Linked DNA regions of Homo sapiens: region 2 is linked to region 1. The links come from fine-mapping of genetic effects on gene expression. A gene starts in region 1. The other region holds a variant in brackets. All regions are shown on one strand. Distances are from middle to middle.

Region 1 (9,160 bases):
GAGAAGGGGACTCACCTTGTTGGCCAGGCTGGTCTCAAACTCCTGACCTCAGGTGATCCACCTGCCTTGGCCTCCCAAAGTGCTGGGATTACAGGCATGAGCCACCGCGCCAGGTTCAAAATACCTTTTCGAATAGGCATTATCTTTTTTAAAAATTTTTTTTAATAGAGACAGGGTCTTATTATATTGCCCAGGCTGGTCTCCAACTCCTAACCTCAAGCTATTCTCTCAGCTCGGCCTCCCAAAGTGTTGAGATTACAGGCATAAGCCACCACACCCGGCCTGAACAAGCATTATAGTGTTGCTTCCTGGCCTGTGAGCAGGAACCTTGTCTGAGGAAAGAGAAATCTGCATCCTGGCTCTTACGAAAGCTCCCCTGCCGGTCCCAGGGAGTTCTCAGTACAATCAAGGACAGAGAAGAACCCAATGATAGATTGGTGTGATTGGTATTATTAGGGGAGCACAGGGGAAGAACAGGAAAGTTACACTTTGTCAAGTGTAAGAAAGTATTCATGGAAGGCTTGCTGGAGGAAGTGATATCTAGGCTGAGACTTGAAAGATGAGTACACATTTATCTGGTGAAAGGAGTAGAAATAGAGTGTTCGGACTGAAGAACTGCTTGTGCAAAGTCCCAGAAGCTTCCTGTATCCTTGTGGGGACCTGATGGTGTCCCTTAAGGCCTGGACAGGGAGGCTGAGAGACTCTAGGCTTTCCAGATTCAGCTCCTTCACCCTGCTGGGGCTCTGCATCTTGAAATGCCTCTGCTTTTGCTCATGGCTGGTTCTGAACTTTGCCCCAGCTGCAGGGTAGGAACACCACGTGCCCCAGCCTGCACATGGCAGGGGATGGGGGGCGGAGCTCATGTCACAAGGCCCATGGGGTGGGCTCCGCAGAGGCTGTAGTGTTCCAGGAGAGGGGTGCCATGAAAGCGCGGTTAGTAGCCTGCAAAGTGTTGAAGGGTAAAGCTGCCTGTGAAGCAAAGGGAAGGTGCAGGTTGGAGGATGGACTGAGCCAGGCGGTCTGCGTTGGGCTGGCACTGGGAAGGGGCCTTCACAGCCACAGGGAGAGCAACGCTGGTGGGACTGGCCGGGGAGCCTGCTGCGCTTTGCTAAGAGCCAGGATGGAGGTTTCTCTTTCCCCAGAAAAGCCTCCTGTTCACAGGCAGGCATCTGCCCGGCTTCAGGAAAACAGCAGCCGCGTGATGGCCTGGAGGAGGGTGGTGTGGGGAGGCATAGAGGGGGTGCCTTCTGGGGACAGGTTCCAGGGGTTTATGTCACTGGGGAGGTGGGTCACAAGAGGGATTTGGTGAGGGAAGAGATGCTGGGGTTGGGCAGGGGCAGGAGATTGTAGAATGGAACCTGCCTCCATGCTGCCAGGAAGCCCTTGGGCTACAGCCACGCAGCCAGGCACATGGCAGGACATTGCCAGACCCACCAGCAGAAGCAGATTTGGGAAGCCAGCAATGGGGGGAGTCAGTGCTCAGGCTGAACTGCTCCTCGGAATCACACCAGTGTTTCCAAGCTGCAGCAAATGGGCAGAGAGGGCTGGTGTGTGTGTGTGTGTGTGTGTGTGTGTGTGTGTGTGTGTGTGTGTGTGTGTGTGTGTGTGTGTGTGTGTGTCTGTGTGTCTGTGTATGTAACGGAATGGAGGAGGCAGAGAAAGAAAGAGGCCAGGAGCTTTTGTCTCCCACCCAGGCCTGCCTTGAGAAGTCACCTGAATAGAGGAAAATGGACTCCTCAGGGCCTGGGGTGGGAGGGCGCAGTGAAGGGAGTGGGAGGCTTCCTGTGCTGTGAGACGCTGCTGCCTGCCGGGTGCTAACAGCTGGGGACAGGGATGGGCATGAGAAGGCCCAACAGCACCTTGCTTGCTGGTGGGGAAGCCTGGCCTCTGGGAGTGGCCCTGTTTTCCAGGATCTGGCATTGGAGAGATGGGCAAAGATGAAGGGACGTGCCAGATCCTCAGCTGGGGTACCAGGGGCTGGAGGCTGTCTTGAATAGCAGAGTGGGGGTCCCGGGGCAGTCCTGGCCAGGGCTGGCTGGGAAGAGGCCTGGTTTTAGCCACAACTGGGGCACAGGCCGGCGGCTGCAGCTTGCTAGTGGTCTGCCCCTCATACAGCGTGGGGAATGCTGCCATCTGAGCTGTGAGTAGTGAACCGCTGGAGCTCCTCGCAGGCTGGCCTGAGGAGGAGGTCTGCAGAGGTCCCCAGACGGCCTAGGGTGGGACATGGATGGGGCGGCTTGACAGTGACAAGGGGCTGCAGAGGATGGGCTGGGGGGCACTGGTAGGAGAAGGTGGGGACTTGGAGGAACTCTGATGATAAGAGGGAACTGATTGGGGCGCCAACCATGACAGCCCTAGAGGTGAAATGATGGGGAAGGACTTTGATTTGGAGAAAGGCTGAAAGAGGGAACTGCATGCAAAAAGCAGGGCTGGGAATTGAGGGAACCTCCCCAGCAAAGCTCCTGCCTCTGCCTGAAACAGTTCACTGAGTGTGAGCGGGGCGGGGCGGGGGCTGTGGGGGTGCAATTTCATTTGACACCCACATTTTTGTCCAAGACCCTTCCACCCCAATCAACACTACACCTTGGAATTCACACAGTCCAGCCTGGTTGAGGCTTCCAGGCTGAGCTGGCTTTTTCTCCCAAGGCAGAAAGGGCATTGGCTCTAGCTTACAGTCCGAGCAGCCACCCTCTCCTGCTTCATGACTTTGGGTGGACGGGAGTTCTGTCTTCCTACTCCTTGCTCCACAGGGGCTATGGTCCTGCCAGGACAGGTGAAAGGTGATGTCAACTGGCATCTGGCATTCAGCTGGTCTCTGGAGGTGGGTGGAGGGAACAGGGTGTCCGTGGGAGAGACCCTGGCCTGCCGTGGGAATCATGCAGAGATCTCAAGTTATGATTTTCTCTGGCGCAGGGGCTCTTTGGCACACAGAAGATGGGGTAAGTCTCTTCAATGCCAAACATGTGGAGGAAGAACATGTGTGAGCATGGTTTACTTTCTCTCCTAAATATGTATTCAAATAAGTACTTTCTGGTTTATGGAGGGTGAGTTCTAACCAGAAATGAGAAGTAAGTAGCACTGTCAGTCATTGTTAACCTCTTGGCTAGCTCTGAGTAGATTGAGAAAGGGGTGGGAGAAGCATCCTCCAACAACCGAGCACTTCCTGTACATTGACCAGGTAGGTAGGCACGTTGATCACAAACACCTTGAGGGACAGCTTCCAAGTATATGCATTCACAGATGAGAAGCATGCTTCAGACAACACAAAATTCATTTTTAACCCGGCTTTCTTTTGGCAGTAAATTTCTCTTCCTAATCATATTTTGCATAAACTAATATTAGAGTGGATTTGCATTTTCAGAGCACAAGATGGAGGAGTGGTGGAGGCGGTTCAGGTGGGTGGCAGGCTGGTCTGGGCTTTAAAAATTGTCCAGAGGTAACTGAGGAGATGAATCAAACCAGACTGAGCTGACTACTTAACACTAGCAGTCAAGATCATCCTGGCTGGGCATGGTGGCTCACGCCTGTAATCCTAGTACTTTGGGAGGCCAAGGCAGGCAGATCACCCGAGGTCAGGAGTTCGAGACCAGCCTGGCCAAGGTGGTGAAACCCCGTCTCTACCAAAAATACATAAATTAGCTGGGAATAGTGGCGTGCACTTGTAGTCCCAGCTACTCGGGAGGCTGAGGCAGAACTGCTTGAACCCAAGAGGCGGAGGTTGCAGTGAACCAAGATTGCACCACTGCACTCCAGCCTGGGCAACAGAGGGAGACTCAAAAAAAAAAAAAAAAAAAAAAGATTATCCTGATAAAACCAGCCTTGAATATGGAAAGTGTCTTCTAGGGACCCCTCAGGTTATAGATGTTATACCTTAGAATCTCTCTATTTTACAGAGGGGTAAATTGAGGCAGAAAACCCAAAGAAGGCTTAGGGACGATTTTCGAGGCTACTCACTTCATGGTGTTTCTTTCAGAGATTAGCAGCTATTACTGAACTCCAGGAGGCAACAGGAGGGGGATGGGATGGAGGTGGGGACCCGCTGAAGAAGGCCTAGGTGGGAGACAGGTAACGTGGTACAGGTACCCACCCCACAACTCATTAAGGGCCATGGAGGGAGGAAGGCTCTCAAGTGCCACGAAAATTCCCAAAGCAGCAGAGGGCTTGTATGGAAACGCCGGTTATTCGTCCCTACCCGGCCCCCGCCCCCCGCCCCCCCGACTGCCCCTGCCGTCGCCTCCCCGTGGGCAAGTGGTGGGGGCCTGGGCTTACAACCACACGTTCTCCTCCAACTAGCATCCCTTCCAGGGTGCACTAGGATGCCTCTCAGAGGTTCTCCCCCGCCTCCCGAAGGAAAGGGGAAAACCCCGTGGGCGTCCGGAGAGCCTTTGCGCCTCGCCAGGTGGAGGGACCGGCGCCACCCAGACCCGCGAGCCGAGACCCTCCCCGCGGCGTCGCTGCGGGAGGGGCGGAAGAGCGCGGGCGGTGGGCGGGAGCGGTGCTGCGAGGCGGGATCTGCGGGGCGTCCAATCCCCTTCTTCCCCCGCCCGCCCCCTCCCCGCCCCCCGAACGCTTTCCACCAACTGCGCGCGGCAGTGGGCGGGGCCCGTCACGGCTGTCGTCTTGGGTGCGATTTTTTTCTCCTCCTTTTTTTACCCTCCCGTTTTTTTCTTTTCTTTTTTTTTTCCCTATCCTTTTTTTGTGAATGAAAAAAGGAGGTCGCGAGCGGTACCTGGGACTGCAGCGCCAGGCGTCTTCGCGGCAGCGCCTTCGCCGCGGGCCCGGGCGCGTAGCGGCGGCGGCCTCGCCCCTCTCCCGGCGCCCCTGCGCGCCGCCCGCTGCCTCCGCAGCCCGGCTCCGCGCGCCGCCGTGACATTGGGCGCCTGGCGCGCGGGGCGATGCTGATCCGGAAGGGGCAGCGGCTGCAGTGCAGCGCGCGCGTCCGCTCCTGGGCCCACGTCCGGCCTGGGCTGCCCTGCCGGAGTTTCTGAGTGGCCGCGAGCTGGCCGGGAGGCTGGAGCCCAGCAGCAGCGCGGCGGCGCCGGCGTCGTCCCAACTTGCAGGCGCGGAGGGACCCCTGACATTTCACTAAAATGAGCGTGCTCAGCAGGAAGAGATGTGTTCCTCACGCTAGAAGCCACCCCGTCACATGTAGTGGTGTAAGTAGATGGCTGCTTGCGGTTATGGCGGGGTGGCCAGCAGCCCTTGCAGACGCGCCGCTCCGCCCTCCCTGCCCTGCCGCGCCCCTCGCTACGTTCCCCGGGCCCCGCTAGTCCCTGGGCTCTGGCTTCGGCTGCTGGGTACAGCGGGGCTGGAGCCTAATCCTTTCCGGTGTTTCTAGGGAAAGGAAGATGACTTGATTGCTTCGGCCTGTCGTGCCCCTCCCCCTTCTCGATGTTTAAAAATTTTTAAATTTCTATTTTGTGTGTGTGCAGAGTAGCGTGTCAGAAAAAAGGAAAAACGGTCCAGAGTGGTGGGAGTGATTCTGTTAAGAAAACAAACACAAAACAACAGTGGAATTGGGGTGTTTTGCTGGCGGTTCCGGAGCTGGTTCTTTGAACTCAACTCCATTGCAGTCTATGTAACTGAGTTCTGTGAAACTACTGGGGAGATCTTTGGCGGTGTTTGGTGATGTGTCCACATTTTAGGTTTGAGGGGGCTTATCTGTGTTTAGGCTTGCATTTCTTTAATCTGACCATTCAGGGTCCCTTTGGGCCTTGCTTTCTGTTGGATCTGCACGGGGCTTCTTGCAATGCCAGCGACCCCCGTGGGAGCCTCCCCGAATTAGGAGTCCACTCTCTCTTTGTTCTTCTCCTTCCAATTCTCCATTCAATCCATCTCCCTTGATTTTACCTTCATTTTCAGGATTTTCCTCCCATTCCCATTTTGTAAGATGATGTGGGATACTGGTTGCTAGGAGACAAGCCAGGCTCCCAGGGAGATTCTGTTGTTTCCTTGACAACCAGACTAGGGCAGCCACAGATGAACAAGCCTCCTATCAGCTGTGGGAGGGAAAGGGGCCCTTTCTGAGCTCTGCAAAGAGTGTGTGTAGGGGTGTGGGGGTGGGACTGGGAGAGCACGAGGTTTGTAGCTAATTTCAGCACACCTTGGGTTTTGGCTTGCACCAAGTACAAAGAGCTGGGAGAGCGGTGGGCAGGAGGCTGTTTTTGGAGGGGCACAGGGATCATGGGACAGGGATGGAAGGAACACATGCCAGTGACTTTGCGATTGTCATGGAAGAGGAGTGAGTTGGGGGTTGTGATGCCCAGGGCTGGGTGGTGAGGAGGTCATAGTTTATGGAGGTTGATTGAGTGGGGATGAGGCAATTGTGAGGGAGAGTCTGGAGTCAGGGAAGAAGAGAGAGCCGGAGGGAGAGGGGAAGCTGAGAGGCTCACTGAATGGGCTGTATCACCATATATCAGCAATGAGTGGGCTGTATCACCATACATCAGCAATGATACAACATCAGCAACATCCTAGGGCAAAAATTATATTACTCTTGGCACACTCTCTCCAGGACAGGATCCTCCTTTAAGACAGGCCTGATTAGACTAAGAGTTCTAACACTTGAATTGGGCCAGTCTGTATCTTAAAGACAGATATAATTACACATATAGATATGCAATCTAGCATTATATAATACCACATTACATAAGAAGACAAATACCTCCTTTCAGCCCAGCCTCTCTTGGCACAAATTAACCACGGTTCAGGAGACTCTTCCAATGTCTTCATACCCATTTCCCAGAGGGGGAGACTGATGCCCAGAAAATATAAGTGACTTGCCTCTTCCTAGATAGGACAGTGAAGTTTGCCAGTCAGGCAGTTGGGACAGGGTAGAAAGGGTGAGATGATACAAACAGAGAGGCAGCTGAAGGACAAGGGGACTGCTGAAGGGGCTGGGGAATGGATGGAAGGGGTTGCGCAACCCAGAAGGTCTGATGTCTAAACTCATGGCACAGTATTTGTCAATTTCCACTTGTTGATTGGCTGACCACTGCTTAACTCTAGAGGTGACATAGCACAGGTGGGCAGCAGTGTTTTCATCACAAAGTAGCTGAACTTGGCCCAGCACTGCTCTGCTGGTGTTCTGGCATTATTCTCACTGTCAAGGTGCTCCTGAATTTGAGAACTGGCATCCCTCCATTAGGCCTCCTCATTCCCCCGCTTCTGTCTACAGACCTACATGCTGGGAGAATCGGAACTTGAGAAAGAAGTTCTTTTGGCTCTTGGGTTTTAATCTTTATCCTCCAGCTGCACATATTTTGTATTTGGGATTATATCTGTTTTGGTATTCACTCGACAAAACAGAAACCACAGCCCAGATGCTGCCTCCTGGCGCCAGCACATTCCTCAACTTGAGATCAGGAACTGTCAAAGTGGGGTTCCCGGTCCTCAGTTCAGGAGAGAGAATTGGGAGGAGGAAGCCTGTGGTTAGAATAACAGTTCTTAACAGTTCTCTGGGCCAGGTGTGGTGGCTCACGCCTGTAATCCCAGCACTTTGGGAGGCCAAGGCGGGCAGATCACTTGAGGTCAGGAGTTTAAGACCAGCCTGACCAACATGGCGAAACCCCGTATCTACTAAAAATACAAAATTAGCCGGCATAGTGGCACACACCTGTAATCCCAGCTACCTGGGAGGCTGAGGCAGGAGAATCACTTGAACCCAGGAGGCAGAGGCTGCAGTGAGCCGAGATCATGCCACTGCACTCCAGCCTGGGTGTCAAGCGCAAAACTCCGTCTCAAAAAAATACAAAAACAAAAAACGGTTGTCTGCTGAGGGAGGGTTAGGAGAGAGAAGGGGTGGTACAGTTGCCCTGGAGACCATGAGGGCACTGCATGGAGACCTCGTTGAAGGGTCCAGATCCTGTAACATTCCAAAAAGGCGGAGGAGGTTGTCTCATTGAGAAGTCCTTGCTGCACTTTTTGCTTAGGTTGCTGAGATGCATCCACTCGCACGGATCCCAGTTGCTATCGTTACTTGGATATTTCGGTCTGCATCCCTGCATGCTGGCATCCAGTTACAGCCCAGCAGGAATGGAGCCTCCCTGTTGTTGCTGGTGGCCTGGCTCTGGGCTGGATGGCTCAGCAGCCAGGGTGCCTGGGCAGCCTCCAGCACTCAGAGCTCAGCCTTCCTTAGCCTAGGAGGGATGACTCCGGGCTGCTAAAGCCCCCCCAGACGACTTTCATACACACAGGAATGTGAGTGGGGCGGGCAGATGACGCTGGCGAAACCAAGCGTCCTAATCACGCTGGCCCTGCCCCTGCTCCCTAATCCCAGGAGGGTGGATGCCGAGGCCAGGGCCTCCTGGCGACAGATTTTTAAACACGAACATGACATCTGACTACAGAAGTGCCTTCTGTTTGTTCATTCAAGCCATCCCTCTCTGGGGGTGGACAAGCCACTTCCTCTCTGCTCAACATCGAAGGCAACTGAGGCAAGCATTTGCCCAGAAATTCAGGCTCAAATTTCTGATCTTTTGCTTTCTGGCAATCCCATCGCCCATGTAGCCAGTTTAGTGAACATCACCTAGGAGTGCCAGCTGCCTGGGATCTTCAGCCTGAGGATCATCCTCCCTAGGAATGGGAAGGGCAGAAGAGGGTGGAGGTGGATCTCACTCTCTGACGCTGGGGGCAGGGTGCTGGGAGGACAGCCCCCCGTAGGGGAAGTAGAGGCCCATTGGCCACTGACTGTATCATCATAGGCCTGTGGTTCCCCTCACCCGCATCTGAAAGCTGGACCTGTAGCTGAGCATGACACATGGGCAACAGGACAGACCCCGAATAGAGAAAGGGAGGCCCCTGGGCTGGTCAGGTGCATCCAGGAACCTCCCCATCCTAGAGAGGCTGGGAGGAAAAACTCTTGCATCTCCATAAAGGGGACTGGGGTCTGGGGTTGAAGCATGCACTTAGGCAGGCTAGGGCTTGGAAATCCACCACCACCAGAGAGGGCAAGGGAAAGAGTGGAGGCCAGGAGAGCTGCTGCCCAGTTCTGACAAGTCCATTAAATTTTAAAGTGCCCTGCCCTCAGGCATGCTGGGAAGGGGTGGGGACGTGGCCGACTCTGCTTCTCTCAGCTGTTTGTTGTTCTGCTGCCACTGCTCTGCCGGGGAAGGAGGAGGAGAGCAGATGAGTGAGCTGCCCTCTCTGGAGAGGGGACAGG
Region 2 (9,530 bases), 33 kb after region 1:
ACACTGGACAAGGAGCCCTGGGGCTGGGGACAGAATGGGGCCTTACAACTCAGAGACACCCTGAGGAAGGGGGATGAGAAGGGGAACTAGAGTAAAAACAAACACTTGGAAAATCTCTGGTTCTGCTCTGACCAAGGCTGAAAAAATCCCACGACCACTTCTCATCCTCACCCTTGTCACCCAGTTGAGGAGCCGACTGCCCCCTGCCTGGCTGGGCCTGAAGATGGGAGGAACTGGCCCTGCCCTCCTGGACTTGGCTGGGAGATATGGGGACCCCCAGACCTGGGAGAGGGACTGAAGAGACCAGGGTCCTGGGGGGTGCACGGGATGTGGGGATGGGGGTGACCACGAGGAGGAGGATAGAGCCAGGCTGGAGGCACTTAGACTTGGGGCAGGGGCAGGCGTTTCTGTCTGTGGGAATAGGGTGGGAGGGGGCAGGGCAGAGAGTGCCCTGTGCCCCCGCCCTCAGCCAGCACCTACCTGAGCAGATGCCTTTCAGGTAAGGAAGGACTTTCTTCCACAGTAAAGACTTGCAAACAAACACAGCCACAATCAAGACTACGGCTGCAACTGTGACTCCTATGATGATGCCTGAGAGAGAACAGGGAGAGGCAGGAGTCCCTGGGCTGGAGGTCACCGTCTCCTCCACAGCTGGGACTTCCCCACTGTGCTTTGTACCTGATTCTTTGTGGACACATTCGATGTCACTCCAGGGTGTACAATCACCGACCTTGACCATCCCTCTGGGACACCTGGGTACACACACAGAGGGAGAGGGGGGACTCTTGATGGAAAGCTGGCCAGGTGGGATGAAAGAGGAGCCACCCTCCCTCCCCAGTGTCCCTGAGAAGGTGTCAGGGGAAGGACAGTCTCCTCGTGTCAGCAGTGGGTCCCCCTGTGCTCCCTTCTTGAGGCTGGGGAAGGGTCTGAGCATGCGCACTTCAGCCCCTCGGCCTCCCTGCTCTGGGGTCAGAGCTGCAGTTCCAGGAGCCTTCTGTGCTGGGCACACACTGAGCTTCCCTGGGCTGCAGGGGAGGCCTGCGTTAGGAGCAATCACACTCCAGGGGAAGGTCACAAGCCCGTGTGGCCACAAGATGAGTCCGGTCTTCCAGTCAACCACAAAAGTGAGCTCTTGTCCCCAGCTGTCTGCCCATTTCCCCCAATCACAGCAAATACTAGGGGGGCCAGAGAAGAGCAAATTACTCTTGGCCCCTAAAACCCAAATAGGGAAAAGACAGGTCTTACTGAGGGATCAGGGGCCAGGGGTGAGGCCGGCTGGGTGGGCTCAGGTCCTCATGGGAACTTGAAGGAGCTCCACCCATGGCCTTATTATGCCTTTTGTGGGCCATGGGCACTTTTGTCTTTATGGGCCCCTGCATGCATAAAAATATTAAAAAATACATTTTATTGCTGAATTGGTATAAAGATGAATATATGCCTGGCTGCATTCTACTCATTCTTCTTATTTCAAGAGAAATTAAATCATTTCATGGGCCCCTAAAATTATCATGGGCCCCAAGTCATGGCCTTCTGTGGTCAGTGAACAAGTCAGCCTGGTCAAGGGGACTCGTGCTGGGGAGGGGTGGAAAGAGGCTGCTGCAGGGGGCAGGGGTGGTGACACGCAGAGGGACCAGGAGGGGCAGCCACAGCCTCAAGGATGCCCCTTGCGGGTGCTGTCAGGGGAGAGACAGGGGTACAAGGAGACTTGGGTCTTTTGGGGTTCCATGGAGCTACTGGGAGCCCCCGGCTCCTGTCTCACCCTGTGCGGCACTTCCGGCACATCTCAGGAGAATCTTCTTCCCGGAAGGTGCCTTCTTCGCACTGACACACTGTGTTTCTGGTCGTGGTGCAGGGACTTAGCTCCACTTCACCTGACGACAGAGCATAAGGTTTTGGGAATGTGTTTTCCTGATGTGTCCCTTGACCCTTCCTCCCCACCCCAAGACCCTGCTACTCAGCTCAACTCAGTTTGCCAAGGAGTTCTGAGGGCCAGTTTCTGCACCAGCACACTCATGGCTCATTCAGGATACCCACCCTTCAGCTGTCACTAACACTCGTTGAGTCATACAAAAGGACCACAGTTCATTATTTATTACATTAGATTAGGGGAAAGCACCGTTTAGGGGACAAGCATCGTTTAGATTGCATGGCCAGTAGCAAGGGAAGTGCAAGGGATCACCTGAGAGACTGCAAGGAGAGGAGCCCTTGGGGGACTTCCCCAAGGCCCAGCCTGCTGGGGAGGAGGGAGAGGCCTGAGAACCTGAAGGGTGAGTGAGGCCGAGCACCTGCCAGGAGCACAGAGCCCAGGGGAGAGAGCCTGGCCCCAAAGCAGACCTGTGCCACTGCTGAGATCCAGCCCTGTCCACTTGGCCTGGCTCATGGCCCCACCCCCTTGCAGCTGACAGTTTAAAAGATTTCCTTACCATGTAGCATACATTATACAAATAATTTCTGTATTATTATTATTTTAATTAATTATTGAGACAGGGTTTTGCTCTGTTGCCTGGGCTGGAATGCAGTGGCACAATCTCGGCTCCCTGCAACCTCGGCCTCCTGGGCTCAAGAGATCCTTCTGCCTCAGCTTCCTAAGTAGCTGGAAATACAGGCACGCGCCACCATGCCCGGCTAATGTTTATATTTTTGTAGAGACGGGGTTTCTCATGTTGCCCAGGATGGTTTCAAACTCCTGGGCTCAAGTGATGCCTCCCAAAGTGTTGAGATTACAGGCATGAGCCACTGTGCCGGGCCTGTTTTATTTATTAAAAAGCTCAAAGACAAAATCATGGAACATGGTATGATGAAGACCAAGGTGGACCAGAATCTAGGTCTCCTGATCCCATTTTAGCTACAACTTTTATGTCATCACCCCGCATTCCACCTTTAGGCATGGGGTCCATATGTTCTGTACCTGAATCACACCTGGTGCAGCGCAAGCAGAAAAGGAGGTCATTCCAGTGAGTGCTATAGTCCTGTCCATATTTGCAGGAGATGCAATCTCTACCGTCTTCTGAGATATGGTGTCCTGGGAGGGGAGAGAAAAGCCGGTGAATGAAATGCCACAGGATTCCCAGAAGCTGGCAGTGGTGGCTGGGGGACTCCTCTTTCAGGGATGTGTGGAACCAAAAGAGGGAAATCTCCTCTACCTAGCTTGGTCAGTTCATCAATTCTGCATTTACACACCTTAAACCAGCACTGCCAAAAGAAATATAAGCCACACATTTATTTATTTTATTTTTTATTTTTGAGACGTAGTCTCACTCTGTCACCCAGGCTGGAGTGCAGTGGCGTGATCTCGGCTCACTGCAACCTCCGCCTCCTGGGTTCAAGAGATTCTCCTGGCTCAGCCTCCTGAGTAGCTGGGATTACAGGCACACACTACCACACCTGGCTAATTTTTGTATTTTTTTAGTAGAGACAGGGTTTCACCGTATTGGCCAGGCTAGTCTCGATCTCCTGACCTCATGATCTGCCTGCCTAGGCCTCCCAAAGTGCTGGGATTACAGGCGTGAGCCACTGCACCCGGCCTATTTATTTATTTATTTATTTATTTATTTATTTATTTAGACAGGGTCTTGCTCTATAGCCCAGGCTGGAGTGCAGTGGTGTGATCTCAGCTCACTGCACCCTCGACCTCCCGGACCCTCCCTCTCCCCCCGACCCACAAATAGCTGGGACTACAGGTGCACACCACCACACCGGGTTAATTTTTAGTGTACTTTTTTTTTGTAGAGACGAGGTTTCACCATGTTGCCTAGGCTGGTCTCAAACTCCTGGGCTCAAGTGATTCACTCTCCTTGGACTCCCAAGGTGCTAGGAATACAGGTGTCAGCCACTGTGCCCAGCCCACATATGAAATTTAAATCCACACTCAGCACATTAAAAAAGGTGAGAAGGGGTGAAATTAATGTTAATAATGCATTTTAATTTAATGTACCCCAGATAATATCACTTAAATATGTAATCCACATAAAACATTGAGATATTTTACAGCATTTTTTTCACAGTACGTCTTCAAATCCTGCGTATATTTTAACTCATGGCACATCTCAATTTGCAGTAGCATTTTTTTTTTTTTTTTTGAGACGGAGTCTTGCTCTGTTGCCCAGGCTAGAGTGCAGCGATCTCGGCTCACTGCAACCTCTGCCTCCTGGGTTCAAGTGATTCTCCTGCCTCAGCCTCCCGAGTAACTGGGATTACAGGCACCCACCACCGCACCCGGCTAATTTTTGTGTTTTTAGTAGAGACGGGGTTTCACCATCTTGGCCAGGCTGTTCTCGAACTCCAGACCTCGTGATCCACCTGCCTCACATATTTCAAGTGATTGGCAATCACATGGGCCTAGGGACTACTATATTAGACAGTGCCATCTTAGACCTTTAAAATGCACAGAAGAATGTCCTAATACCTGTTCTGAATGAGCTCCTAGCCAGTGGAAGATACACCAGGAGCAGAAGTCATACAACAATGGGAAAAGCCTTCAAAATTAAAGCTCACACCATCAGCCATGGGAAGAAAACGGGAGGAATCTCTATAGAGTCAAAGAATGATCCAAAGAAAAGGGGACTAAAGCTGCCCTGGAATGAGGATATGTTTCAAAATTGGAAAGTGTGAGTCCCGCCAACTCTGCTTTTCTTTTACCAGATTGTTTTTGGTCAATAAGTCTTTTTAATTCCATACGACTTTGAATATAAGTTCTTCCATTTTTAAAATAACACCACTGAGATTTTGGTAGGGATTTCATTGAATCTGTATATTGCTTTGGGTAATTTAACACCATTTTGATCTATGAACATGGAATATCTTCCTGTTTATTTTGCTTTTTTAAAATTTCTTACAGCAATGTTTGATAGTTTTCAGCGTAAAAGTTTTGCAGTAGCAAAGAACAATCCAAAAAGGAAATTAAGAAAACAATTTCATTGACAATGACATAAAAATGAATAAAACATTTAGGAATGATATTTAACAAGGAGGTGCAAGACTTTTAAAAAACATTTGTCTGCACATCCAAGAAACTCAATGATCTCCAAGCAGGATAAGTTAAAAGAGAACTACACTGAGACACATTATAGTCAAATGGACAAAAGCCCAACACCAACAGAAAATCCTGAAAGTAGCAAGTGGCCCACTCAGTATGTACAAGGGAACCTCAATAAGGTTATTAGCTAATTTCTCACCAGGAACCATAGAGCCCAGAAGGGAGTGGGTAACATATTTAAAGTGCCAAGAAACAAAAACACAAGCATACAAAATCCTGCAACCAAGAATTTGATATCCAGGAACATTATCATTCAAGAATGAAGAAGAAATTAAGACCTTCTTAGATAAATGAAAGGTAATGGAGCACATTACTAGTAGATCTGCCCTGTGAAATGCTAAAAGGAATCCTTTAGGAGGTAATGTAATGACATTAGATAATAGCTCAAAGGCATACGAAGAGATAAAGAACACTGGAGGCCGGGTGCGGTGGCTCACGCCTGTAATCCCAGCACTCTGGGAGGCCGAGGCGGGCGGATCACGAGGTCAGGAGATCGAGACCATCCTGGCTAACAC[G/A]GTGAAACCCCGTCTCTACTAAAAATACAAAAAAAAATTAGCCGGGCGAGGTGGCGGGCGCCTGTAGTCCCAGCTACTCGGGAGGCTGAGGCAGGAGAATGGCGTGAAACCCAGGGGCCGGAGCCTGCAGTGAGCCGAGATTACGCCACTGCACTCCAGCCTGGGCGACAGCGAGACTCCGTCTCAAAAAAAAAAAAAAAAAAAAAAAAAAAAAAAAAAAAGAACCCTGGAAAAGGTAACTATTTAGGTAAATATAAATGCTGGTACGCAGCTACTTAGGCTGCTATAATAAAATACCATAGACCAAGTGGCTTAAACAATAGACATTTATTTATCATAGTTCTAGAGATGGCCACCATCTTGCTGTGCATTTGCGTAACCTCTTCCTTGCACACACCAGAAGAGGGGGGGAGAGAGAGAGCGAGCAAGCGAGAGAGAGCAAGTTGTCTGGGTCTTTTCTTAAAAAGGCACTAATCCCATCATGAGGGCCCCACCCTCATGACCTCATCTAAACCCAATTACTTCCCAAAGGCACCATCTCCAAATACCATCTCATTGGATGGTAATGCTTCAACATATGATTTTGGGGACACAATTCAGTCTGTAGCACAGTATTATGGTACATTTGGTTTGTAAATCCTCTTATTTACTTATATGATTTAAAGAGCAAATGCAGAAAACAATAATTACAAATTGATGTTAATGGGCACACAATGTACAAGGATGTGATCTATAACAACAAGATGGAGGAGGAAAGACGGAGAAGTACAGGAGCACAGTGTTTGCATACCATTGAAGTTATGTTGTCATTACTCAAACTAAGCTCAAGTCCATCTCAGAAAGGGGCCAGTGGGTCCCCACACCCATCCTGTCTGATTTCCTCATTTTAGTATGTGTAATTGGAATAGACATACTCAGCAGCTGGCACAATCCCCACCTTCATTCCCTGACATGTGAAGTGAAGACTATTATGGTGGAAAAGACCAGGTGGAAGCCACCAGATTTGCATTTACTTAAAAAAAATAGTAAATCAAAAGCAATACCAGATGGGCATGGTGGCTCATGTCTGTAATTCCAGCACATTGGGAGGTCAGGGCAGGAGGATTACTTGAGGCCAGGGGTTTAAGACCAGCCTGGGCAACACAGTGAGACTCCATCTGTACACACACATACAAAATTATCCAGGTATGACAGTACATGCCTGTAGTCTTAGCTGCTCAAGAAGCTGAGGCAGGAGGATTGCCTGAGCCCAGGAGTTCAAGCTGCAGTGTGCTATGATTGTGCCACTGCACTCCAGCCTGGGTGACAGAGTGATACCCTGCCTGTAAAGCACAAAAAAACAAAAGCAATACAACATTCCTGGAGGGATTGCAGAGATCATTACCACCATCCAGGATGCATCTGTGGTGATTCCCATCACATGCCCATTGAACTTGACTATTTGGCCTGTGCCAAAGACAGATGGATCTTGGTGAATGACAGTGGATTATCATACGCTTAACCAGGTGGTGATTCCAGTTATAACTGTCCCAGATATGGTTTCATTGTTTGAGCAAATCGCCACATCCCTGGTACCCTGGTATGCAGGTGTTGAACTGGCAAATGCTTTGTTGGTCATACCTGTCAATAAAGACTCCCAGAAGCAGTTTGCTTTCAGTTGGCAAGGCCAGCAATATACCCTCACTATCCTGTCTCCGGGATGCATCAACTCGCAGCCCTATGTCATAATTTAGTTTGCAGGTATTTTTTTTTTTTTAATTAAACAGAGTCTTGCTCTGTCTCTCAGGCTGGAGTGCAGTGGCATGATCTCAGCTCACTGCAACCTGCACCTCCTGGGTTCAAGCGATTCTCATGCCTCAGCCTCCCAAGTAGCTGGGATTACCCATGTGTGCCACCACATCCAACTAATTTTTGTATTTTTAGTAGAGATGAGGTTTCACCATGTTGGCCAGGCTGGTCTAGAACTCCTGGTCTCAAGTGACCCAGCCACCTTGGCCTCTCAAACTGCTGGGATTACAGGCGCGAGCCACCACATCTGGCCTGCAGGGATATTGATGGCCTTTCCCTTCCACAAGATAACACACAAGACGATCCATTATACTGATGACATTATACTGATTGAACCTCACGAGCAAGAAGTAGCAACTATTCTAGACTTAATGGTAAGACATTTGCATGTCAGGGGGTGGGAAATAAATCTGACAAAATTTCAAGGGCCTTTTACCTCAGTAGAAGGACAACAACTGGGAAACAAATTCCTAGTTGTTGAATGATGTGGCACATAAGATATTCCTTCTCTTCTAAGATATTCTAAGATAAAAGATAAATTGTTGTATCTGCCACCCCCACCTCCCTACAACCAAGAAAATGACACAATGCCTAGTGTGCTTATTTTGATTTTGGTGGCAACATATTCCTCATTTGGGTGTGTTTCTCTGGCCTATTTATCAAGTCACCTAAAAATGTGCTAGTTTTGAGTGGTGCTCAGAACAAGAAAAGGCTCTGCAACAGGTCCAGGCTGCCGTAGACATTTTTCTGTCACTTGGGCCATACGACCCAGCAGACCCAACGGTGCTTGAAGTATTGGTGGCAGACAGCAATGCTGTTTTGAACCTTTAGTAGCCCACTCTAGGTCAACCACAGCACAGGCCCTTAGGTTTTGGAGCAAAGACTTGCCATCCTCTGCAGATAACTACTCTCCTTTTGAGAAACAGCTCTTGGCTTGTTTCTGGGCCTTAGTGCAGACTGAATGGTTAACCATAGGCCACCAAATTACTCTACGACCTGACTGCTCATCGTGAACTGAGTGTTATTTTGCCTACCAAGCCATAAGTTTGGGCACATACAGCCTAAAGTTTCCATTTCCATTTTCAAATGTAATTGGTATATATACAAAATTGGGCTTAAATAGGCCCTGAAGGCACAAGAAAGTTACATGAAGAAGTGGCCCAAGTGCCCATGATCCCCACTCCTGCAATATTACTTTCTTTTGCCTGGCCTGCACTTATGGCCTCATGAGGAATTCCCTATGGTCAGTTGCCAGAAGAAGGTTTACAGATGGTTCTGCACCACATACAGGTAACCCTTAGAAGTGGATGTTTGCAGCATCACATCCACTGTCTGGGACGTCCCTGAAGGACAGTGGTGAAAAGAAATCCGCTAGGCCGGGTGTGGTGGCTCACACCTGTAATCCCAGCACTTTGGGAGGCCGAGGTGAGTGGATCACCTGAGGTCAGGAGTTCGAGACTGGCCTGACCAACATGGTGAAACCTCGTCTCTACTAAAAATACAAAATTACCGAGCATGGTGGCACATGCCTGTAATCCCAGTTACTTGGGAGGCTGAGGCAGGGGAATCACTTGAACCCGGGAGGCAGAGGTTGTAGTGAGCCGAGGTCGCCCCATTGCACTCTAGCCCGGGCAACAATAGCGAAACTCCGTCTCAAAAAAAAGAGATCCTGCCACTGGGCAGAACTCTGAGCAGTACACCTGGTTGTTCATTTTGCTTGAGGGAAGAATGGCTAGACATGTAGTTATATACTGATTCATGAGCTGTGGTCAATGATTTGGCTGGAGGGTCAGAGGCTCTGAAGGAAAACTGATAACAAGGAAGTCTGGGGAAGAGGTGTGTGGATAGACCTTTCTCAATGGGTAAAAAAACCATGAAGATATTTGTGCCCCATGTGACACAAATATCTTCACAAAAAGTGATCTTAGCAGGGAAGGATTTTAATAATCAGGTGGATAGGATGACCTGTTCTGTGACTACCAGTCAGCTTCTTTCCCAGCCATCCTTGTCATCACTCAATGGGCTCATGAACAAAGTGTGCATGGTGGCAGGGATGGAGGTTATGTATGGGCTTAACAATACAGACTTCCCTCACCAAGGCCAACCTGGCTACAGCTGCTACTGAGTGCCCAATCTATAGGCAGCAGAGTCCAACACTGAGTCTCTGATATAGCACCATTCAGAGGGTCAGT

The links. PIP is the estimated chance that this variant, and not a neighbour inherited with it, causes the effect.
Region 2: its variant is fine-mapped to the expression of RHOBTB2-AS1 in whole blood (INTERVAL, PIP 0.91).

Annotation. Positions count from the first base shown.
Region 1 is chr8:22,994,950-23,004,109 of GRCh38, forward strand. It overlaps RHOBTB2-AS1 (RHOBTB2 antisense RNA 1), which reads right to left and starts at 4,856. Exons shown (of 2, transcript XR_007060857.1): 1 at 4,730-4,856. RHOBTB2 (Rho related BTB domain containing 2) reads left to right here and starts at 4,599. Exons shown (of 10, transcript NM_015178.3): 1 at 4,599-5,156. RefSeq lists silencers at 4,279-4,538, 4,759-4,928, 5,259-5,308 and an enhancer at 8,806-9,160.
Region 2 is chr8:23,027,851-23,037,380 of GRCh38, forward strand. It overlaps TNFRSF10B (TNF receptor superfamily member 10b), which reads right to left. Exons shown (of 9, transcript NM_003842.5): 3 at 2,909-3,022; 4 at 1,760-1,871; 5 at 481-752. Among named protein-coding and RNA genes, the nearest start is that of RHOBTB2-AS1, 33 kb to the left of the region's middle. RefSeq lists enhancers at 395-895, 896-1,396. The variant G/A (reference allele first, on the strand shown) is at 5,551.